Linked DNA regions of Homo sapiens. The protein of the gene in region 6 purifies or fractionates together with the protein of the main gene of each other region. This does not show direct contact. Each region holds a gene or a part of one and is shown on either strand. Other genes may lie near its edges. The genes, in order: UBE3C, TRIM71, ST13, TRIM4, TRIM56, DYRK4 and PJA2.

Region 1 (3,500 bases), on a different chromosome or scaffold from region 6:
CTGCCTCAGCCTCCTGAGTAGCTGCAATTACAGGCACCTGTCACCACGCCTGGCTAATTTTTGTATTTTTAGTAGAGATAGAGTATCACCATGTTGACCAGGCTGGTCTCGAACTCTTGACTCCAGGTGATACACCCTCCTTGGCCTTCCAAAGTGCCGGGCCTCCTCCTTTTTTCTTTTTTTTGGAGACAGAGTCATGCTCTGTCACCCAGGCTGGAATGCGCTGGCACAATCCAGGCTCACTGCAACCTCCACCTCCAGGGCTCAAGTAATTCTCCTGCCTCAGCCTCCCACGCCCAGCTAATTTTTTGTATTTTTAGTAGTGACGGGGTTTCACCACGTTGGCCAGGCTGGTCTCAAACTCCTGACTGCCTACCTCGGCCTCCTAAAGTGCTGGGATTACAGGCATTAGCCACCACACCTGGCCAGCAATGAGGATTTCTAGGGCAATGACACTCTTCTGTATAACGCTGTAAGGGTAGATACATGTCATCATATATTCGTCAAAACCTACACAATGCACAACACACAGTGTGAACCTGAATGTACACTATGGACTTCAATTAATAATAACACATCGACATTGGTTTATCAATTGTAACTGATGATCCACATTAATGCCAGATGCTAGTAATAGAGAAAAGTGAGGTGAGGGAGACTAGGCATATGGGAACCCTACCCTCTGCTTGATTGTAAACCTGAAACTGCTCTAAAAAATAAAGTCTATTTTTTTTTAAAAAAAGCACTGGACAAACATTAAAGTGATCTTAATTCTACTCCCACTATTGTCAGATCTACAAAAACTTAAAAAATTTCAGTTCCTCCGGTCTACAAACTTTTCTATATCCATATTCATCCCTAGCTTCTTTAAGTCTCAAAATATTTCCCATTGCCTGCTCCCACTCAGTTCTCCCCTCTCGGGTATTCTCGAAGACTCTGAAAGTTATGCCACTCCTGTCTTCCCCACATTTTTAACCCCCGTCCTTCCCAGTCTATAAACTTAAGTTTCCCCCGTCTCCCAAAACAGACAAAACTATTTCCGAGACACCGAATTTCCCTCTATCATCCAATCTTCCGGTGCTTTTCAAAAAAGGTCTACACTGTTGCCTTGCCCCTGCCTTATTTTTTAAGAGATGGGGTCATGCTGTGTCGCCTAGGCTGGAGTGCTATGGCATGATCACAGCTCACTGCAGCCTTGAACTCCCGGGATCCAGCGATCCTCCCGCCTCAGTCTTCGGTGTGGCAGATTGTAGGCGTGCGCCACAGCATCCGGCCTGTGTTCGGCCCTGTTTGTGACTTCCCATTCACTCTCCAATGTGCTATGCTCTTGACTTCCAACTCTGACTACCCTACAGAATATGCTCAAATCACCCAATTCTTCCCAGCTCCGCAGTCAGTGGACTCACTGTGTCTGTGCAGCACTTGGCATTGCCTGTCACTCCTCCCTCCCTGAGATTCACTCCCTGGACACCACTCTCCTCCACTCCCGGAGGTGTGACTCTTTTGTAAGTATCCCCAACTCCCACACATATTAAATGTTGCAGTACCTCACGAGTCCCACCCTGTCCCAAACTCCAAGTCCTCTTAAGGACCTGTGTTCGAAGCCACCATTCTGTTGATAACCCCCAAATCTGCATCTCTAGCCTAGACTCCTTCCTGTGCCTGTCCCACAGGAACTCAGGCATTCAGTCAACGACCACTCCCCGCTTCTTGAAGAATCTACCCCAGCCCTCAGGTGCACCTAGACTGTTCCATCTGAACCAAGCCTCCAAGCCCTCCTCAGACTGAGGTTATCAGGTGGAAACATGACCCAGGCCAATCAGACTTTCCTCTCCTGAAAACTGGTAATTATGATCAAACTTTCTTGACGCTTAAGCTAGGAAACCATGTGTGAGAAATGGAGAAAGCCAGTCTGCAGAGCCAGGAATGAAGGAGACAGGAAGAAGGGAGTGCACCCAGCTCCTGGAGAAAGACAAGCAACTCCTGTGGTGGTGATACCTGCTATCTGGGTGTTTCTGACCTTTCTATTCTGTCAGACACGCCTATCCTTTCATAAACTTGTTTTTGTTTCTTTTTGTTTTGCCTACTAAGCTAGTTTTAGTCCATTTCTGTACTTGAAATCAGATGACCCCGTGATATTCTTCTATACACTACCAAGAAAAACATACCCCCAATTAAACTGCATCATGCTATCAGTGTGTATCCCGATGTCAGAAATATTTAAAGATAGAAATCAGTGTGACTTAAAAAAAAATTTCAGGCTGAGCGCAGTGGCTCATACCTGTAATCCCAGCACTTTGGGAGGCTGAGGCAGGCGGATCACCTGAGGTCGGGAGTTCGAGACCCGCCCGACCGACATGGAGAAACCCCATCTCTACTAAAAATACAAAATTAGCCAGACGTGGTGGTGCAGGCCTGTAATCCCAGCTACCCGGGAAGCTGAGGCAGGAGAATCGCTTGAACCCGGGAGGTGGAGGTTTGTGGTGAGCTGAGATCGCACCATTGCACTCCAGCCTGGGCAACACTGCGCTCCAGCGTGAGCGAAACTCCATCTCAAAAAAAAAAAAAAAATTCAACTTTTATTTTAGAGTTAGGGGGTACCTATGCACGTTTGTTACAAGAATATACTGCAGGACGCGGAGGTTTGGGGTGTGAATGATCCCATTACCCGGGGAGTGAGCACAGTTACCAACAGGTAGCTTCCCAGCCCTTGTCCCCGTCCCTCTCTTTCCCCCTCTAGTAGTCCCTGGTGTCTATCATCCCATCTTTATGTCCATGTGTAATCAATGTTTAGCTCCCCAAAGTGACTTTGAATCAATGTAATCCAATCTACATGTACTCCACACACCCCGCTCCACGAACCTGGAATGCCTTCTCGTCTTCCACCCATCCTAATTACACCCATCCTTCAGGACTAAGCTCCAAACAATTCTACTTTTTCTGAATCAGGACCAAGGGAAATTTAGAATGTAGCAATTACTCTATTGTTATTTAATTTTTAATTGCTTAAGTCTTATCTGCCCAACAAGATTATCAACTTCTTCAAGTCAGACTTGTCGTACACAGATCTATACAAATAATAAATACTAAAAGTATTTAATTTGAAAAAAGAAAAAGCTTATTCAAAGGTGGTAACCACTCCATTTTCCACTAAGCTCCAGAAAGGGAAGATTTCAAATAATAATTTAAGACATGAGAAAAGGGTCACTATAACTTCATTTTTCCAACAAGGGAAGGGACTTATGCGGCAGTCAAAGAGAATTCAGGAAAACAAGCATATGTAGGTGCTCAACATAATTAGTTGTCAGGAAACAAAATTAAAACCACAAAGAAACTACATCCTCACTAAAATTAAAGGACTTGCAATATCAAGTGTTGGCAAGGATGTGGAAACCTGGATACCTTCAGATGCTGTGGGCGTGCGACACGGGGAAACTGTGGCAGCGGTGTGCACAACAGCTGAACATGCGTATCATCTAGGACCCAGCACAAGAGTATTA
Region 2 (3,500 bases), on a different chromosome or scaffold from region 6:
GGCATGAGAGTTTGCCCTGAATCTTAGCTTCATTATCCAGAAAAGTTGTTAAGACTGTGTTACCTAGTCTGATATTAGTGGCCTGGATGTAAGAATGTACCAGAAAAGTTTCCTTTGCTGCTCTAGCCTAGATGTGTGAAGCAAGGTTAAGAGCCAGTAACAACCATCCTCACACCACAGGTAGTAATGCAAAGTGCAAAGCATGGTTCTCCCAGGCACTCAAGCAAGCTACAGGCTTAAGTTTCTGGAACGAAGGCAAAAAGCTAGTGGTAAGGTCAGCCAGCTCCTTGCCTTTCTTCTTCATGCCAAGTTATTCCAAGGAGTTGAACCTGGGAGGCAGCCAGTGCTGACAGAACTGCTTTATGTGATGTTCTACACTTCCCTGGGGCCCAGCACGCTGGGAGGGAGGGAGGGAGGGAGGGAGGGAGGGAGGAAGAGAGAGAAGGGCTGGCACAACCTTTACCTGCTAATAAACAAGGAGCTCTCAAGAGAGAAAACTCCTTGGCATAGAAACTGGGCCAGTCTCATTACTGTATCTCTCCACAGAGCAGGGCACTTAGCGCCACTCTGTAAATGTTTGCTGGATTGCTTTCAAGAGCAGAGCTTAAATTTGCCTCTGGTACACCTGGGCATGAGGGGAAGCTAGCTAACATGCAACAGGCAGGGAAGCAGTATACAAATACAACACCCACACTTCATCTCCAGGTGAGGACAGGAGTTGGGGAGTGCTCAAGGCCACAGTGTTAGCAAAGACACAGCAGGGAAGCCAGCATGAGCCTTCTACAGAGCTGGTTCCAACACAGGTATGACACCAGCTCTCTCATCACCAGTACAAAGCACCTTGCTAGGTATGGTGGAGATCCAGGATGTGAGATTCCAGGCGATTCTGCGCAGACTGAATAGAAGCTCATTCTGGTGAGAAGCAAGGCAGAGTGTTGTGGGAGACAGAGATGGGGAGAAGGCTTGGAAGTGGCCCAGAAGGTTTTCTTAGGCGGAGAGCTCCAAAAAGAGAGGGCTGGGGGCAAACAGAGGGAGACTGCTGCTTCTTTCCTTCTCCAAGTTCTTTATTTTATTAACAACCAAAATCTTCACATAAAGTGTGTCCACTAGAAAAATGCTCCCCCTAAATGGTTCACTCAAGCACACAGAAGTTACTCCACTCGGGGCTAATTGAGTTAATAGGGAAGTGTGTAATCTAGGATGGGTTAAACTGGTTCTCTAGAAACTTTACGATTCAGAAACAGGAAAAACGAAAGATTTAGGATATTGTGTTTTTACTTTTGTTAAGTAACAGTTCTGCTATAACCAGGAGGTTTTTATGGATCCTACTTTATTTGTTTGTTTTTGAGACAGAGTCTTGCTCTTGTCACCCAGGCTGGAGTGCAGTGGCGACGCGATCTCGGCTCACTGCAAGCTCTGCCTCCCGAGTTCATGCCATTCTCCTGCCTTAGCCTCCCTGGGAGTAGCTGGGACTAAAGGTGCCTGCCACCACGCCCAACTAATTTTTTTATATTTTTAGTAGAGATGAGGTTTCACCCTGTTAGCCAGGATGGTCTCGATCTTCTGACCTCGTGATCCACCCACCTTGGCCTCCCAAAGTGCTGGGATTACAGGCGTGAGCCAACGCACCCGGCCCAGATCCTACTTTATACAAGGGAAATGTGGTAAGGTTTGTAACTTTCCTACTAATTTTGATCACTGCAGTGCTTTGCCAGCAATGGTGGCAGACTGAAACCAGGTAGCAGCAACTTGCCTCCTTTAAATCAGTTGCTTTTAAAGCTGATCTATCCTTCAGAGATTATCTAATCCTAATAATCTTTTAAATCTAAAATTCTCAAGTATAAATACTAATCAAAAGATGCTGAGCTGGATAAATTCAGGAAAAATTCCTGGCCAATCCCTTTTTACGACCTGGTGCTAAAGCAATTCTACCAGTTTGAACGACGTTCCTTTCCTTTGCTCTCTCCATTTGTCATGGGAATGAAGGGATCACTCCTATGCTGATGTGAAGTGTGAAAACCCTTCCATCAGAAAGTTTCTTGTACATGTGAATAAAACATGCCACCAAACCTTCGGGTGGCCTCCCTGCTTCTAACAGCTAAGCAACCTTGAGAACGCATCCGTTCTTTCCCTCTTCTCAAGACAGCTGTGTGGACTGAATGGCACTCTCCTGCTTCCTTCGGACTAAGGGGCTCTTGCAAATTGTAACTACCTAGATTGCTCTCATCTCCATGGCTAGTGAGTACTGGCACTACCTGGCTATGGAACCATCTGTCCAATCACCTCTCTTGACCTGTCTGGGCTTCAGTCTCATCTGTGAAACAAAAGGGGCCTGACTGGGTACCTCCGGAAGACCCCCTTCCACCCCAGAAAGTCTACCTAATAGAGACTTGACAACAGAAACTAAAGAGCTTCAAAATTAAGTTCTAGTAGCTGGACGTGGCAGCTCATGCCTGTAGTCCAAGCTCCTTGAGAAGCTGAGGCTAGAGGAACACTTGGGCCCAAACTACCAAAAAAAAAAAAAAAAATTGCTGGGCGTGGTGGCTCACGCTTGTACTCAGGAGCCTGAGGTGGGAGGATTCCTTGAGCCTAAGAAGTTGAGGCTGCAGTGAGCCGTGACCATGGCACTGAATTTAGCCTAGGCAACACGGGCTAAGAGTGCAAAACAAACAACAACAACAGAACAAGTAGTAAGTTCTGGGCTGAGCCAGGGTGCCCATTCCAGACTCCAACTATGTAACTATAAAGAATTAAGGTGATTTTTCTTAGGTTTAGATCAACCTCAAAATACAGAACCTGGATGATGCTGGACATTTGCAATCCCCCCATGAATGGTAGGTTTTAAAAGATTCTGCAGATGCAGTAGCCAGAAAAAAATCCTGGTCAGAACAGGTAGTGGCCGGTATGGCAGCGAAAGGCAGGGTGCCCTGAGCCGACACCAGAGCCCTCCTGTGACCAGCCTTGAGAGCCCAGATATACAAATGAAAGGGGTCTCTGAATGCAATCCCTGCTTGGTATCATTTTACACAGGATCGATGCAGTTCTAAGTACCCAGAACACACTGTGGTTTCAGAAGAGCCAGTGCTTTCACAGCTCCAGGCCGCCTGCAACAGAGATGGGGACAGGGAGCACCCAAATGGTTGATAATAAAAAGCTACCAGTGAGTAAAAGAATGGCCTCAATGTGCTCGTTATTAGTAAACAATGAATTTTTAAAAGAATGCATTGTCCAAAAACTATAAAATGAAATCCACTTTTATAAACCTTCCAGCTAAAAGTTGGAGCAGAACTTTGGTAGGATTTCATGCTTCATTTAGAAGCTCCATGTCTCATCTAACCACAATTTGAAACTGAAAAACCACAATTTTAGAGCTGTTAAAACAATCGATAGGTAAGGATGTGCATGGATGTAATTCTCTCTGAAACAGGTGTAAAATTATTTTTAAGGAAATAAACTGGAGCTGTGTGGAGGGTCCTATAGCCAGAAATGTGGTAGTAGCC
Region 3 (3,500 bases), on a different chromosome or scaffold from region 6:
CCCATATTGATCTTGTTTAAGGAAAAAGTAGACGGGCACGGTGGCTCACGCCTGTAATCCCAGCACTTTGGGAGGCCAAGGCAGGCAAATCATGAGGTCAGGAGATCGAGACCATCCTGGCTAACACGGTGAAACTCCATCTCTACTAAAAAATACAAAAAATTAGCTGGGCGTGGGGGCGGAGCCCTGTAGTCCCAGCCACTTGGGAGGCTGAGGAGTGGCGCGAACCCGGGAGGCGGAGCTTCCAGTGAGGCGAGATCACCACTGCACTCCAGCCTGGGTGACACAGCACGACTCCGTCTCAAAAAAATAAAAATAAAAATAAAAGAAAAAAGTAAAAAGATAAAATCAATTTAAAGGATAAGATAAATTAATTTTATTCCATTGATTTTCTTTTATCCATTAAATTAAAAAGAAAAAATTAAGCTTAGAAAGGAAAAGTAACCCATGTTAACTTCACAGGGCTGATTTTAAAAGAAAACAACAATATGCTTATTATTTGAATTCAAAGAAATGGTACAAAAATTCAAGAAAACTAGAATTCATAAAAGACCATAACCTATACTTTAATTCATTTTGTCCTATTCTCATAGTTAGCTTCTTTACTAATCCCTTATGTCATTCAACAAATAAAACACCCTATAGAATCAGAAGAGTTCTTTGCACAAAGTCTAAATCTTGGGGAGGCAAGACAAATACAGAATTTTTTTTAAGAGACAGGGTCTAACTCTCACATAGGCTAGAGTACAGTGGCATGATCATAGCTCACAGGCTGAAGTGATCATCCCACCTCAGCTTCCTGAGTAGCTGGGAATACAAGCCCACAACACTAAACCTGGCTAATTAAAAAAAATTTTTTAGAGACTGGGCCTCACTGTGTCACCTAGGCTGCTCTCGAACTCCTGGGCTCCAGTAATCCCCCCAACTCAGCCTTCTGAGTAGCTGGGATTACCACTGTGCCAGGCCGAACACAGAAATTTTTAAATAAATGTCACAATTCACTGTGAAAGATACTTAGCCAGTTAGCGAATGAGTAAAGGACTTGAAAAGAACTCACAAAAACAACACAGAAAAATGCTCAGTCTTATTAATTACTACTACAGGTATCTATTATAGGTAATTACACTTAAATGTCTAATAAACAACTCAGACCTACCATGTTCAAAACCTAAATTTTTTTTATGACAGGGTCTTGGCTGGGCACAGTGGCTCACGCCTGTAATCTCAGCACTTTGGGAGGCCGAGGCAGGTGGATCACCTGAGGTCGGGAGTTCAAGACCAGCCTGACCAACATGGAGAAATACCAAGACCAGCCTGACCAACGTGGAGAAACCCCGTCTCTACTAAAAATATAAAATTAGCCGCATATGGTGGCGCATGCCTGTAATCCCAGCTACTCAGGAATCTGAGGCAGGAGAATCGCTTGAACCCGGGAGGCGGAGGTTGCGGTGAGCCAAGATCGTGCCATTGCACTCCAGTCTGGGCAACAAGACTGAAACTCCATCTCAAAAAAAAAAGGTCTTGCTCTGTCACCCAGGTTGGAGTGCAGTGACACAATCACAGCTCACTGCACCCTCAACTTCCTGGGCTCAAAGGATCCTCCCAGCCTCAAGGGAACCTCCCATCTCAGCCTCTCAAGTAGCTCATATTACAGAAACGTGCTACCACATCCAGCTAATTTTTTGTGTTTAAGAGATGGAGTCTCACTGTGTTGACCAGGCTGATCTTGGACTCTTGGACTCAAGAGATCCTTTCGCTTCGGCCCCTCAAAGTGCTGGGATTGTTAAGTGTGAACCACCACGCCCACTCAAAACCGAAAAACTGAATTCCCATTTCCTAGCCCATTTCCAAATCTATTCCCAATCTGTATCTTCCCAACTAAACAAATGGCTCCTCCATACATTTAGTTCAGGAGTTGGTAAACGTTTTCTGGAAAGGGCCAAATAAGAATTATTTTAATCTCTGCAGACCATACAATCTGTCATAACTACTCAATGATGCTGTTGTAGTGGGAAAGCAGCCACAGTTAAGTGCCAGACGTGGGATTCAAACCATACCACTCTGGCTCCATACTCCAGGTTTTAATTACATTCTCCAAACAAAACTGCCTTCACCAACCTTGGTGGAGCTTGGATTCACAACCCCTGCTTTAGAATACTAATCTTTTATCCTTTAGAATACACTATACAATTGCATAAATTCTAAAATCAGAACTAGATTAAATTTACAAAGGCACATGAACAGAGAGTTCAGAAAAAAGTGAGAAAACAAAAACATGATTAGGTGATAGCCTCATTTTCCTTTTGTTACATATTGCCGAGACAGTAAATTTTAAAATGGGCTGGGCACAGTGCCTCACACCTGTAATCCTAGCACTTTCAGATGCTGAGCTTGGGAGGCCTGCTTGAGGGCAGGAGTTCAAGACGAGCCTGGGCAACAGGATGAAACCCTATCTCTACCAAAAAAAAAAAAAAGAGATAATAATTAGCCAGGCATGGTGGCAGGCACCTGTATTGCCAGCTACTCAGGAAGATTGCTTGAGCCTACAAAACTTGAGGCTGCAGTGAGCCATGACCATGCCACTGCACTCCAAACTGAGTGGCAGAGTAAGACTCTGTCTCTTAAAATTTAGGTGGTAGGGAAATTAGCAAAAGTTTCGTGCGATGAAAAGGAATGGTACAGAAGAGCAATGGCTGGGAACAACTGATAGGTATGAATTAAAAGTTGAAATATGTGAAGAAAAGCTTTCCAGAGAAACAGTATAGCATAAATAAAAAAAAAAAAAAAATTCTAGAACAGTAAAGTCTGACTGGAGAAAACAAGATTGGAGAAGTAAAATACAGGATCTTAGTCTGGCAGGTCTATAATCCTCTGATGAAGATCTTAAATATATATGCAAAAGTTAATCACAGGTTACAAGCAAGAGTAGAATAAAAAACAGCTCTAAGAATAACCTAGGGAAAGTAAACAGAAAGCAATAAAGGAATAAATTTTTCAGGAAGGTAAACTATTAAGGCAACTGCAGTATAAAACAGTATAAACATGTTTTAAGGAGCTAAATTAATCAGGTGGTAGAATCACAAAATGTTTAAAATATATACTAACTCGGAACATCAATACTGAACTCATTCTAAAAATAACTTCAATCATCTTCTAAATCTAATAATGAAGTCCAAATGCACATGAGCACTATACAATAGCATCTAGTCAACTATGGCATTGTGACACACTATCACTGTTATAAAGAGTGAAATATTACTCAAGCAGCCACAGTACCCAAGTTTATACATGATTTGTTCTTACAAATTATAACCGATCAAACATTACACTTAATACTACCATGGGCCGGGCGCAGTGGTTCGCGTCTGCAATCCCAGCACTTTGGGAGGCAGAGGCGGGCACATCACTCGAGGTCAGGAATTTGAGACCAGCCTGGCCAACATAGTGAAACCCCGTCTCTACTAAAAATACAAAAATTAGCTGGAGATGGTAGCACACGC
Region 4 (2,814 bases), on a different chromosome or scaffold from region 6:
GAGCTGTGTCTTCAGCTAGGTTTACAGCCACTGTGGAGAAAATGAGAGCTAAGTAGTGCAGCAGCTTATCATCAACCCTTCCCCAGAAATGCCCATCTTTTCCAGCATCAGTTTCATCTTTCTCCTCCTAACAAACACTCATGACTCCACTGCTGCCCAACTGATCCTCAGCCAGGCCTAGCAGGCCACAGCATGGCCTTTAGCAACCTGAAGTCCTCATTTCCCTTCTGCTCTAAAAGACTAAGCCCTAGACCAGGCGCAGTGACTCATGCCTGTAATCCCAGCACTTTGGGAGGCTGAGGCAGGGAGATCACTGGAGGTCACGAGAGTGAGACCAGCCTGGCCAACATGGCGAAACCCCGTCTCTACTGAAAATACCAAAAAACAAACAAACAAAAAAACTGGCCCGGCATGATGGTGGGCACCTGTAATCCCAGTTACTGGGGAGGCTGAGGCAGAAGAATCACTTAAACCCAGAAGGCGGAGGTTGTAGTGACCCGAGATCGTGCCACTGCACTCCAGCCTGGGTGACAGAGCAAGATTCTATCTTTAAAAAAAAAAAGACTAACCTCTAGAAACTGGGGATCTAATTATTTCATGCCCCAAGTTTTCACAAACAGCCTAAAATTTGGAGAGATATTAACAAATTCTCACGTTGAATCAAAACTAGAACCAAGGCTGCCGACTAGCTGGTTCTTTGGCTAGATACACACAGGTGTCACATAGGACAGAATAATGAGGTCTCTTTTCACGGGTTCCAGTTGTTTATGGGGCATCTCCACAAATCTCCCCACAGATCATTCAAAACTGAACTAATTATCTTACTTACACCCCCTTCTATACTCTCGGGACTAATCCACTTCATATGCAGACATCTTGCCTTCTATGTTCTCTAAGGTGTCAGAGTCCCCTCCACCTGAACACTCATGCTTTTAAATCTTTATTTTCGACTCTTTCCTCTAACCTTCAATAGCTAGTTAGTCACCAAGTCCTACCAATTCTACCTCTGAAATTTGTCACTCAGGTTCTTTTCCTCCCCTCCACTCCCATTGCCACTGCCTTTACTCCAATCTCCAGTGTCACTCAATGTGTTAATAATGTCCTCCCTGGCCTCCCTGACTCCAAATTCCCTTCCCTCTAACTCTCCATGTCTCTTGAGTTTGAGGACTTTTTTTAAAAAAAATCAGGAATGTATGCTAGAGTTTGACAAATGCTTTTCCTGCTTCCACTGAGACAATCACATGGTTTTCCTTTTTTTTTTTTTTTTACTTTAGTGATATAAACTACATCGATTTTCAAATATTAAACCAACTATGCTCTTCTGGGATAAATCTCACATATTGTGATTATTATACATTATCCTTTTTGTATACCAAAGGATATATAAATTGGTTGTGATTATTACATATTATCCTTTTAATATATTGTTGGATTCAATTTGCTAAAGTTTTCTGAGAATTTAGGTATCTATGTTCATGAGAGACATTGATGTATAATTCTTTTCTCTTGTGACGTCTTTGTCTGATTTTGGCATCATGGTAATACAGGCCTCACAGAAAGAATTGGGAAATATTCCCTCTTCATCAATTTTCAATAGGAGTTCTTGAAGAATTGGCATTTATTTCTTAAATGTTTGGTGAAATGTTTCACCAAGAAAATCATCTGGGGACCAGGCGCGGTGGCTCATGCCTGTAATCCCAATGCTTTGGGAGGCCAAGGCAGTGGATTACGAGGTCAGGAGTTCAAGACCAGCCTGACCAACATGGTGAAACCCCATCTCTACTAAAAAAAAATACAAAAATTAGCCAGGCATGGTGGCGCGCACCTGCAGTCCCAGCTACTTGGGAGGCTGAGGCAGGAGAATCACTTGAACCTGGGAGGTGGAGGTTGCAGTAAGCTGAGATTGCACCACTGCGCCCCAGCCTAGGCAACAGACCAAGACTCCATCCCCCCCCCAAAAAAAAAAAGAAAAGAAAAGAAAGAAAAGAAACAAAACGAAAGCCATTTGGAAGGTTTCTAATAGCAATTTCTTTCATAGAAATAAGATTATTCCAGTTATCTCTATCTTCATGAGTCAGCTTTTGTAATTTGTGTCTTTTAAGGACTTCATCCATTTCATCTATATTGTCAAGTTTATTGGCAAAAAGTTGCTCTTAATATTCTATTATCCTTTTAATATCTGCAGAATCTGTAATGATGTCACCTTTCTCATTTCTGACATTAGTAATGTGTGTTTTCTTTTTTTCTGATCATTTTGATTAAAGGTGTGTCAATTTTACTGAAATTCTCAAAGGACCAGCTTTTGGTTTCATTGGTTTCTGTTGGCTTTCTGTATTTCACTGCAATGATTTCTGCTCTGATTTTTATTATTTCCATTCTTCTGTTTACTTTGGGCTTTACTTGCTCCTCTTTCTCTAGTGTCTTAAGGTGGAAGCTGAGGTCAGTGATTTGAGAAGTTTCTTCTTTCCAATATAGCACTATACACTTTTCTTTAAGTTTTGCTTTAGGTGCATCCCACAAATTCTGGTATATTGTCTTTTCCTTTTCATTCCATTCAAACTACTTCCTAATTTGCCTTTTGATTTCTTCTTTAATTCAAGGGTTACTAAAAAGTCTATTATTTAGATTCTTGATATTTAGGGGGGTTTCTAAGGATATTTTGATACTGATTTCTATCAATTCCATTGTGATCAGAGAACATACTCTGAATGATCGGAATCCTTTGAATTTGACACTTGCTTTACAGCCAGCTTAGTCTATCTTGGAAAATGTTTCACGTACACTGAAAAAAATATGTAGTATATAGCTGTTGGG
Region 5 (3,500 bases), on a different chromosome or scaffold from region 6:
GGTTTCACTGTGTTGGCCGGGCTGGTCTCCAGCTCCTAACCGCGAGTGATCCGCCAGCCTCGGCCTCCGGAGGTGCCGGGATTGCAGACGGAGTCTCGTTCACTCGGTGCTCAATGTTGCCCAGGCTGGAGTGCAGTGTCGTGATCTCGGCTAGCTACAACCTCCACCTCCCAGCCGCCCGCCTTGGCCTCCCAAAGTGCCGAGATTACAGCCTCTGCCCGGCCGCCACCCCCTCTGGGAAGTGCGGAGTGTCTCTGCCTGGCCGCCCATTGTCTGGGATGTGAGGAGCCCCTCTGCCCGGCTGCCCAGTCTGGGAAGTGAGGAGCGCCTCTTCCTGGCCGCCATCCCATCTAGGAAGTGAGGAGTGTCTCTGCCCGGCTGCCCATCATCTGAGATGTGGGGAGCACCTCAGCCCCGCCGCCCCGTCTGGGATGTGAGGAGCGCCTCTGCCCGGCCGCGACCCAGTCTGGGAGGTGAGGAGCGTCTCTGCCCAGCCGCCCCGTCTGAGAAGTGAGGAGCCCCTCCGCCTGGCAGCCGCCCCGTCTGAGAAGTGAGGAGCCCCTCCGCCCGGCAGCCGCCCCGTCCGGGAGGGAGGTGGGGGGTCAGCCCCCTCCCGGCCAGCCGCGCCGTCCGGGAGGGAGGTGGGGGGTCAGCCCCCGCCCGGCCAGCCGCGCCTTCCGGGAGGGAGGTGGGGGATCAGTCCCCGCCCGGCCAGCCGCCCCGCCCGGGAGCGAGGTGGGGGGCGCCTCCGCCCGGCCGCTGTCCCGTCCGGGAGGTGGGGGGTCGCCTCTGCCCGGCCGCCCCGTCTGGGAGGTGAGGAGCCCCTCTGCCCGGCCACCACCCCGTCTGGGAGGTGTACCCAACAGCTCATTGAGAACGGGCCATGATGACGATGGCGGTTTTGTGGAATAGAAAAGGGGGAAAGGTGGGGAAAAGATAGAGAAATCAGATTGTTGCCGTGTCTGTGTAGAAAGAAGTAGACATGGGAGACTTCATTTTGTTCTGTACTAAGAAAAATTCTTCTGCCTTGGGATGCTGTTAATCTAAGACCTTACCCCCAACCCCGTGCTCTCTGAAATATGTGCTGTGTCCACTCAGGGTTAAATGGATTAAGGGCGGTGCAAGATGTGCTTTGTTAAACAGATGCTTGAAGGCAGCATGCTCCTTAAGAGTCATCACCACTCCCTAATCTCAAGTACCCAGGGACACAAACACTGCGGAAGGCCGCAGGGTCGTCTGCCTAGGAAAACCAGAGACCTTTGTTCACTTGTTTATCTGCTGACCTTCCCTCCACTATTGTCCTATGACCCTGCCAAATCCCCCTCTGCGAGAAACACCCAAGAATGATCAATAAAAAATTAAAAAAAAAAAAAAAAAAAGAAAACCAAGAAGATGGGAAAACCATGCAGAATTGATTTGACGAGGAAAGCCTTGGTCTCTAATACATGCAATGACTAGAACAGTATTTGGTCAAAGAACCACATAAGCTCTGTACCCTGGAGGAAATGTATGCAGGCAAGGACTAGTAAAATAAAAAATAATAATAATTAAAAAAAAAAAAAAGAAAGGCTGGACGCGGTGGCTCACACCTGTAATCCCAGCACTTTGGGAGGCTGAGGTGGGTGGATCACCTGAGGTCAGGAGTTTGAGACCAGCCTGGCCACTACGGTGAAACCCCATCTCTACTAAAAATACAAAAATTACCCGGGTGTGGTGGCGCATGCCTGTAATCCCAGCTACTGGGGAGTCTGAGGCAGGAGACTCGCTTGAACCTGGGAGGCAGAGGGTGCAGCGAGCCGAGTTCACCCCATTGCACTCCAGCCTGGGTGTCACAGTGAGACTCTGTCTCAAAAAAATAATAAATAAATAATTAAATCCACTTGCAGTGGTCAAAAATAAATGTTAAATAAATGGGTGAGAAATCTTGCGGAGAAATAGACTCCTGGCACTATAAAAATGATCCTGGAGAATAATTTGGCTAGACTTTGCAAGAATGACAAAAATGATTATAAGAATCAGTTGTCTCACTTTGGGGAATACATTCTGGGAAAATAATGTAAGAGAAAAAATATTTGCATACAGACATTTGAGGCTGCTCTGTATATTACAGGCAAGAACTGGAAACTGTTCGGCTGCAGGGTGACAGCTAACTAGATTGTGGTTTATTAGGGGAATGAGCCTTTCTTTGTGTATGACAACTATGAAAACTATTGAGAAGAAATAGTTACGTGATACAGTCATAATCCTCAAAAACGGAGAATCAGGAATTATGATCAAATAGTGATAGTAACAAGGAAAACATCTGTCTAAATAATTACTGAGTAGAAATAGGTTCGGAATTTGTAAATAGTCATTAATTTGGGAGATTGGGGTTTTTTTTGTTTTGTTTTTTGTTTGTTTTTCATTATTTTGTGCTATTATTCATACGTGTACATTTCTACTTCAGTTTTTATTATCCATTACATAACATACATGCTTGATTATTTGCTTCAAGGAAATACACCTTTATAAGTAATACTCAATAACTACTGGGTTTGAGAATGAAGGTGTCAGAACGAATGAGATTGTCCTATGAAAGAAGAGGCAGGAGCCAGGGAGGAGGATCCCACCCGGCCGGGGCTCAGCCAGGAGGCAGGGCCATTGGGGCAGGGTGGCAGTCCAAGGAACCGCTCTGGGAAGGTTTGCAAAGGTCGGGGTCCCCCCTGCCAGGTGATCGAATTATCGTGGAGTGTCTGGAAGGCGGGGGAAGTTTTGTTGAGTTCACCAAATAACTCAGACCAACTGGAAACCAAGTGGAGTTTCTACAGGACCAACTAGAATAGGGATCAGCTACATGGGGGCGGGGGGAGGGGGGCAGGGAACGGTGTCTGTCTTCATTGCAGCTCTGTCTGCAGAGCCAGCACTGTGATACCTCATAGTAGGTGCTCAGTGAATGTCTGTGAAGTGAATTACTATCTAGACAAGGATGAGACTGGTATGACTCTCCAAAGCTTTCCCACCTCCAAAACCTCGGCTTGTGGGGAATCTCCAGTAGGGGGCACTGTGGACACGGTTCGCATCTGCCTCCCAAGGCTGGGCTCCGCGTCAAAAAAAAAAAAAAAAAATGAGACTGAGCCAGGTGCAGTGGTCACTCCTGTTATCTCAGCACTTTGCGTGGCCAAGGCGGGAGGATGTCTTGAGGCCAGGAGTTCAAGACTAGGCTGGGCAACATAGCAAGACCCCATCTCTACAAAAAAATTTTTAAATTAGCCAGAGGTGGTGGCATGCACCCGTAGTCCCAGCTGCTCGGGAGGCTGAGGCAGAAGATTGCTCGAGCCCAGGAGTTCAAGGCTGCAGTGAGCTCTGATTGTGCCACTGCACTCCAGCCTGAGTGACAGAGCAAAACCTGGTTTCCTAAGGGGGGGATAAAAGAGGGAGAGATGAGATCGGGGTGTCCCGCTTCTGTGCATGTGGAGGGGGTAACTGGGAACCGTGTACTGTAGGGGATCGCACACCTTGGG
Region 6 (3,500 bases):
TATTAGAAAAAAAGTAGGTCTTGGCCAGGCGTGGTGGCTCACGCCTGTAATCCCAGCCCTTTGGGAGGCCGAGGCGGGCAGATCACTTGAGGTCGGGAGTTCGAGACCAGCCTGATCAACATGAAGAAACCCCATCTCCTCTAAAAATACAAAAATTAGCCAGCCGTGGTGGTGCATGCTTGTAATCCCAGCTACTTGGGAGGCTGAGGCAGGAGAATCGCTTGAACCCAGGAGGTGGAGGTTGCAGTGAGCTGAGATTGCACCATTTCACTCCAGCCTGGGCAACAAGAGTGAAACTCCGTCTCAAAGAAAAAAAAAAAAGAAAAAAAGCAGATCTTTTCTGGAAACGTTCTTCAACTATTCCAGGTAACTTCCAGTAGGATCTCACATATATACAGCAGAATAAAAGATACCATGGATGCACTCACCCAGGGCCTTCTGGAATACAGCTTACCTGTTAGATTAAGGCCTTGCCCTTCTGCTGATTTTCCCTCCACACCCACCCAGATTTGGCCCTGCCAATCAGCATGATCCTCCACACCTTTGCCTTTGCGCTGTACCCAGAGGTGCTTGGGGCACAACCATCAGCACTGGGTCCTGAGTCCCTAGGACCTCGCAATGATACCTCTCTTCCCCAGTGAAAATTCAAGGATCTTTACCTTCGCAGAGGTGAACTTTTGTTTCTTTCTTGCTTTCAAAACCAGGAAGGGAGTCAAATCACATTTCCTTGGCTTTTTAGCATCCATTTGAGTCCTGCATGAGGGAAAGTAAAAAATAAATTGGCAGGAGGAGTCAAATCTAAGTAATGGCCCACACACTCAGGGACAGAAGAAAGCAGGCAGGTTTGAAGAAAAGAAGGCAACAGGCCTAAAAGCAGGAGCAGGGTCCCTGCTTCTCCCTTGCTTCCCTTCTGATGGTCACATGAGGTCAGGAGGTCAGACAGAAGCCAGGGAAGGAGGAAGAGATAATCAGGTGATTAGCAGTTTAGACAACCAAAGGGGAAAAAAACCATTTCCCCTACTTAACTGGAAAGTAAACCTCATGCTTTTGCCACAAACATAATATCCCCTTACAGGATGGGCGTATTCATGGGCTACTTAGATAGTTTAATGCCTATAGAAAAAGAAAAGGGGAACAATTGGTAGAAACACTTCCTCTAACTCTCATTTGGCCATGTTTGCATCTTCTTCATTCACAGCACAGTTCTATTAATAATTGACTTACTGCAAGACAAAAAAAACCTTGCACACATTTATGGAATCTAGTGTAAGCAGTAATTTCTATAAGTGGAAGGTGAGTCTCAGAGGGGTCTCAGGACACTTACATTCCCTGTTACATTAGCAGAGTACAGCTGAAACCGCTTGCTCTGTGTCCTTTGCAAGTCCCTTTTCGGCTTCTAGCTTTAGCCAAGAGCCAGAGGAATCAAGAATACAAGAAACAAGGGCAGAACAGGAACCAATGCAAATATTATGACAGCTTCTGCAAATCACTCCACTGGCAGGCTCTTGCAGACACCATATAAATGATGATGGCACCACAACTTTGAAAGTATTCAGAGGATTAAAGAAAAGTCATGCTAACATTTCTTGCAGTATAACTATTGAAAAATCAGAACTTGTCCATAATGGGAAGTTAACAATTCATGGCACACATATGTTTTATGAAATATAATGCAGCCATTTAAAAAATAAGATAGATCTTTATATGTGCCCATAATGTATTGAGCAAAAACAGTAGAACATGTGTGTAATATAATTCTATATTTATTTAACAGAAAACAAAATGCTTGCATGTCTTTATACAGGCATATTGAAAGATCTAGAAGAAATGAACTGTAATAGTGACCTCTTCTCAGTAGGGCTGGGGGAGGTAAGTAGGAACATTAACTTTAACATACACACACATACAGACAATATGAAAAAATCCTGCACAAAAGCAAACAAAAATTACCAGTAACTTCTCTGCTTAAGATCATAGTTTCACTTCTTCCTTCTCTTCCTTTCTTTCTATAAACATTTGCTGAGACAATTTCACTGATAAACCAGACATGGTCTCTGCCCTCAAAGAAAACTCCTTATCCAGGAAAGGAGGTACATAGAAGAAAGTAGATCATGACAATGCATGTGATCGATGTATTAATACAGCCTTCTGCAACCAGCTCCCAGAGCATGTTTCCAGGTGTTGACTAAGTCAGCTGGAGGAGCTGAGGAAGCCTTCACGCTTGAGCAGGGTAGAACCATCTCTGAAGAATGAGCAGAGCAGGCAGGAGTGTCAAGGGCAGATGGAGGAGGACACACAAAGAACATAAATATGAAAGAACATTGTTTTTTCCAGAAATTTTGAGCACTGTCCTTGGACATTGCCGATGGAGGGCCAGGGAGGTAGATTAGGTTGTAAAGGGGCACGTAGTCCAAGTTAGAGTCTTGGAGCCTGCGTGGCTATGCTAAACCTGGGCTGAAGATCAGATTTGTATTCTGGTACCATTTCTCTGGCAATATCACGAAGCACGATTTGGAGGAACTAGGAAGGCATTTTGGGTGTCTAGATAAGAGTGAATGAGAGCCTCAACCAAGGCACTGACAGTGGGGATAGAAGTATGAACTTGGGAAAGATTTGGGAGACAGAACAGGTAGAATTGTGGCCATCAACTGGACATGGGATTTGTAAAATCGCAACATTGGGCAAAAATGAACACAAAAATTTTTCCTGCCAAGACTCTGTATCGAGTGTTGCCTTCCTTTACTTCACAGAGATGTAGGAGACTATGAAAGTACATGTGGGATGGGCATGGTGGCTCACGCCTGTAATCCCAGCACTTTGGGAGGCCGTGGCGGGTGGATCATCTGAGGTCAGGAATTCAAGACCAGCCTGGCCAACATGGTGAAACTCCATCTCTACTAAAAATACAAAAGAAGTTAGCTGTGTGTGGTGCCTCACGCCTGTAATCCCAGCTACTCGGGAGGATGAGGCAGGAGAATCTCCTGAATCCGGAAGGCAGAGGTTGCAGTGAGCGGAGATTGCACCACTGCACTCCAGCCTGGGCAACAGAGCAAGACTCCATCTTAAAAAAAAAAAAAAAAGTAAATGTGAAATCTTCCAAACAGCTGGAGCCCTTTCCTCTGTTCAGCTCTGACAGCGCTGGAGGCAGAGAAGGAGCAAACACTGAAGGAAACGCTGAGGAATCATGGAGCCTCGTCACAATGCCACCTAACACACAGTGCCATGATTTTGAATGAGCCATTTGTCCTCTCTGTGCTATTTCCTCATCTGCAAAATAATGAGACTGGAGACTGGAGCAGGTGACTTCTAAAGTCCCTTTGGGGTCTAAATTTCTTTAATTCTACAAAAATACTGACAGACTGAAAAAAAAATCTCTTGTGACTTATTCCAACTTTGCCATCCCTTGGATAATTCTGTGATTATTAAAGACTATTTTGTGCCTTTCTTTTTTTATGCATGAACTCTGGCTTCCAACAGTACAACTTAACCCTTGCTCAAAG
Region 7 (3,500 bases), on a different chromosome or scaffold from region 6:
GGAGGAAGCTTTTAGTGAGCTCAAGATAAATCAGGCCAGGCTCAGTGGCTCACACCTGTAATCCCAGCAATTTGGGAGGCCAAGATGGGTGGATCACTTTAGGTCAGGAGTTCAAGATCAGCCTGACCAACATAGTGATACCCGTCTCTACTAAAAATACAAAAAATTAGTGAGACGTGGTGGTGCACGCCCATAATTCCAGCTACTCAGGAGGCTGAGGTACGGAGAATCGCTTGAAGTCGGGAGGCAGAGGTTGCAGTGAGCCAAGATCACACCACTGCACTCCAGTCTGGGTGATGGACTGAGACTGTCTCAAAAAAAAAAAAAGAAAAAGATAAGTCAAAAGAAATGATCCAAGCCTAGATAAAAAGTGATTTAACTGAAAAGAAACATGTTAAAAAACAACAGCAACAAAAACCAAAACAGAGCCTCCAAGAATTGTGGACTGCATTAAATGAGCTGCCATGAGTTTAACTGGAACCCCACAAAAAGAGAGCAAACCAGCAGGGGGAGGGGGGGGAAGGGCGGGGGGGTGTCGCGGGCAGTGGAAACATTAGAAGAGAAAGATGCTGTGAATTTTTCATACATTATTTAAAAGATCATAAATCCCAAGAAGCTCAGTGATTCCCCCCTACAAAAGCAGTATAAATACAAAACACACAAAAATGTACACATATCCCAAGATGTTAACATCTTTAACCTGCTATAAAAAACGAATGATATGGCCGGGCATGGTGGCTCACACCTGTAATTCCAGCACTTTGGGAGGCAGAGGCAGGTGGATCACGAGGTCAGGAGATTGAGACCATCCTGGCTAACATGGTGAAACCCCGTCTCTACTAAAAAAATACAAAAAAAATTAGCCAGGCATGGTTGCGGGTGCCTGTAGCCCCAGTTACTCAGGAGGCTGAGGCAGGAGACTGGCATGAACCTGGGAGGCAGAGCTTGCAGTGAGCCGAGATGGCGCCACTGCACTCCAGCCTGGGAGACAAAGCAAGACTCTGTCTCAAAAACAAAAAACAAAACAACAACAACAAAAAAACCAAATGACACATGCCTGTAATCCCAGCACTTTGGGAGGCCAAGGAGGGCAGACCACTTGAGGCCAGGAGTTTGAGACTAGCATGGCCAACATGGTGAAACCCTGTTAAATACAAAAATTAGCCAGACGTAGTGGCGGGAGCCTGTGATCGCAGATACTTGGGAGACTGAGGCATGAGAATCACTTGAACCCGGGAGGTAGAGGTTGCAGTGAGCTGAGATGGCGCCATTGCACTCCAACCTGGGCGACAGAGTGAGACTCTGTCTCAAAAACAACCGCTACCACCACCAATGACAGCCTGGGCACAGTGGCTCAGGCCTGCAAATGCAGGATTTTTGGAGGCTAAGGTGGGAGAATTGCTTGAGTCTAGAAGCTCAAGGCTATAGTGAGACAAGCTTGTACCACTGCACTCCACTTGGGCAACAGAGCGAGACCTTGTCTCAAAAAAAAACAACAAATAAAATAAAATTTAAAAACCACTGATAAAACATATTTGATACTGACAGCAGAAAAAAGGAACTAAATAAGAATCACAGCCAAATTCTTATTTGAAACTGTGCAAGTCAAAAGATAATAAATAGCATCCTTAATATTAGAAAAACACTGTGAACAATAAATTTATATCCAGCAAAATCTTTCAAAAGAAAAAGTGAAACAAAGTATTTGTGAAACAATCTTTGGAACTTTGTTACCAGTAGAATTGAAGTCCAAGAAATGTGAAAGGAAGTTCTTCATGCAGAAAGAATAAGCACTGGAAAAGAGGCCACTATAACACAGAAAATCAATTTTAATTTAACTTGTACTAACTACTTTAAATTCAAATTTAAATAGCTACACTGGCTAATGACTACCATACTAGACAGCACAGGAATAAAACAAATATTACAAGGTATTATGCATTTATGGCATTTGTAAAAGGTAAAACAGTAATAGCACAAAAGATAAGGAGAAATTGTAAATATACATTGTAAATATACTGTTGTAAAGCTCTGACACTATATAAAATGTGGTATAGTATTGCTTCCATATGGTCTATTATTAAAGATGTAAAATATAAATCACAGAGAAGCCAATTAACTTTTTAAAAGAGAGGAAAAGTTGAGTGTAAGTAGTGAGCCAATGGTGAAGATAAAATGCACTCAAAAATAGGCATCAGAGAGCACATAAGTAGAAAACAATTAAGATTGTATATTTAAATCCAACTACATCAAAATTACATTAAATGTAAATAGTCTAAACACTTCAATGTAAAAACAGATTTTTCAAGATGAATTAAAAAAGGCTGTCTAGAACAAACCCATTTTAAATAAAAGACAGATTAAATGGATGGAAAATAATATACAAACACTAAAAGGAGGCTGGAGAGGCTGTATTAATATTAGATAAAGTAGACTTTGGAATGAGGAATACTATCAGAGATAAAGAGGGCATTATATAATGATTAAGGGGTTCATTCACCAAAAAGTTTTAACAATCCTAAATTTACATGCACCTAACAGGAGGTTCAATACACATGATGCAAAAACTGAAAAGGAGAAATAAACAAACTTACCATTATACTTGGAGACTTCAACTCTTCTCTCAATGATCAATGAAACAAACAAAAACTCAGTAAGGAAAGAGAAGGCCTAACAAGCATCATCAATCAACTTGATATAGAATACTCCACTGCTAAACAGCAGAATACACATTATTTTGAAGTGTACATGGGACATTTACTGAGAGTAACCATATTCTGGTCATAAAACAAATATCAAAGAATTTAAAATAAATTATACAAAGAAAGAGACATGCAAAATCACCAAATATTTGGAAATTAAACAGCAACCTTCATGGGTCAAAGTGGAAGTGACATAAGAACTTTAAAAAAAATCAGTGCATCAAATTTGTGTAAGCACCTCAGGCAGTGCTTGGAAGGAAAAGAAAAAAGGTCTCAAGTCAATGACCTAAGCTTACACCTTAATAAATTAACATAGAGGAATTTAAACCCAAAGCATATAGAAAGAAATAGTAAGAAGCAGAAATCAATAAAACTAACAATTAAAAAAAAAGCAATCAAATAAAAAGTTGACTCTGAAAAGATTAATAAAATAAACCTAGAACCAAATAAAAATGAGAGGTCACACTGCTAATAACAAGAATGAAAGGAAAGACACCACTACAGACGTTATAGGCATTAAAATAATTAAGAAACAACTTTATGACAACGAATAAATGAAATAAGACAAATGCCTTGAAAGACAAAAACTACTAACGCTCACTTAGTGAGTGAAAGTGATTCATACAAAGACCGAAAGCTTTCAAGAAGAAATAGATAACCCTAATAATCCTGTATTTATTAAAGGATAATTGGACTTATCCTTTGAAGCCTTCCAGCAAAGAAAACTCTAGGACCAGAAGAGTTCACATGCAAACTCTAAAAAAAATTGTAAAACAAATAATACTAATCCTAATAAAT

The links.
Region 1: the proteins of DYRK4 (region 6) and UBE3C purify together in Homo sapiens (affinity purification with mass spectrometry, with the first as the bait; one large-scale study listed by BioGRID). This does not show direct contact.
Region 2: the proteins of DYRK4 (region 6) and TRIM71 purify together in Homo sapiens (affinity purification with western blotting; one study listed by BioGRID). This does not show direct contact.
Region 3: the proteins of DYRK4 (region 6) and ST13 purify together in Homo sapiens (affinity purification with mass spectrometry; one large-scale study listed by BioGRID and IntAct). This does not show direct contact.
Region 4: the proteins of DYRK4 (region 6) and TRIM4 purify together in Homo sapiens (affinity purification with mass spectrometry, with the first as the bait; one large-scale study listed by BioGRID). This does not show direct contact.
Region 5: the proteins of DYRK4 (region 6) and TRIM56 purify together in Homo sapiens (affinity purification with mass spectrometry, with the first as the bait; one large-scale study listed by BioGRID). This does not show direct contact.
Region 7: the proteins of DYRK4 (region 6) and PJA2 purify together in Homo sapiens (affinity purification with mass spectrometry, with the first as the bait; one large-scale study listed by BioGRID). This does not show direct contact.

The regions. Positions count from the first base shown.
Region 1 is NC_000007.14:157,141,926-157,145,425, reverse strand, and holds part of UBE3C (ubiquitin-protein ligase E3C), read right to left. Parts: intron 1-3,500. UniProt on the Homo sapiens protein: E3 ubiquitin-protein ligase that specifically catalyzes 'Lys-29'- and 'Lys-48'-linked polyubiquitin chains.
Region 2 is NC_000003.12:32,869,997-32,873,496, reverse strand, and holds part of TRIM71 (E3 ubiquitin-protein ligase TRIM71), read right to left. Parts: intron 1-3,500.
Region 3 is NC_000022.11:40,836,140-40,839,639, forward strand, and holds part of ST13 (hsc70-interacting protein), read right to left. Parts: intron 1-3,500. UniProt on the Homo sapiens protein: One HIP oligomer binds the ATPase domains of at least two HSC70 molecules dependent on activation of the HSC70 ATPase by HSP40. Stabilizes the ADP state of HSC70 that has a high affinity for substrate protein.
Region 4 is NC_000007.14:99,892,717-99,895,530, forward strand, and holds part of TRIM4 (E3 ubiquitin-protein ligase TRIM4), read right to left. Parts: intron 31-2,814; coding exon 1-30. UniProt on the Homo sapiens protein: E3 ubiquitin-protein ligase. Mediates 'Lys-63'-linked polyubiquitination of the innate immune receptor RIGI, this linkage doesn't lead to proteasomal degradation but seems to enhance IFN induction.
Region 5 is NC_000007.14:101,091,981-101,095,480, forward strand, and holds part of TRIM56 (E3 ubiquitin-protein ligase TRIM56), read left to right. Parts: 3' UTR 1-3,500.
Region 6 is NC_000012.12:4,565,208-4,568,707, reverse strand, and holds part of DYRK4 (dual specificity tyrosine-phosphorylation-regulated kinase 4), read right to left. Parts: intron 876-3,500; exon of another isoform or gene 754-875; coding exon 660-753; intron 1-659. UniProt on the Homo sapiens protein: Possible non-essential role in spermiogenesis.
Region 7 is NC_000005.10:109,399,975-109,403,474, forward strand, and holds part of PJA2 (E3 ubiquitin-protein ligase Praja-2), read right to left. Parts: intron 1-3,500.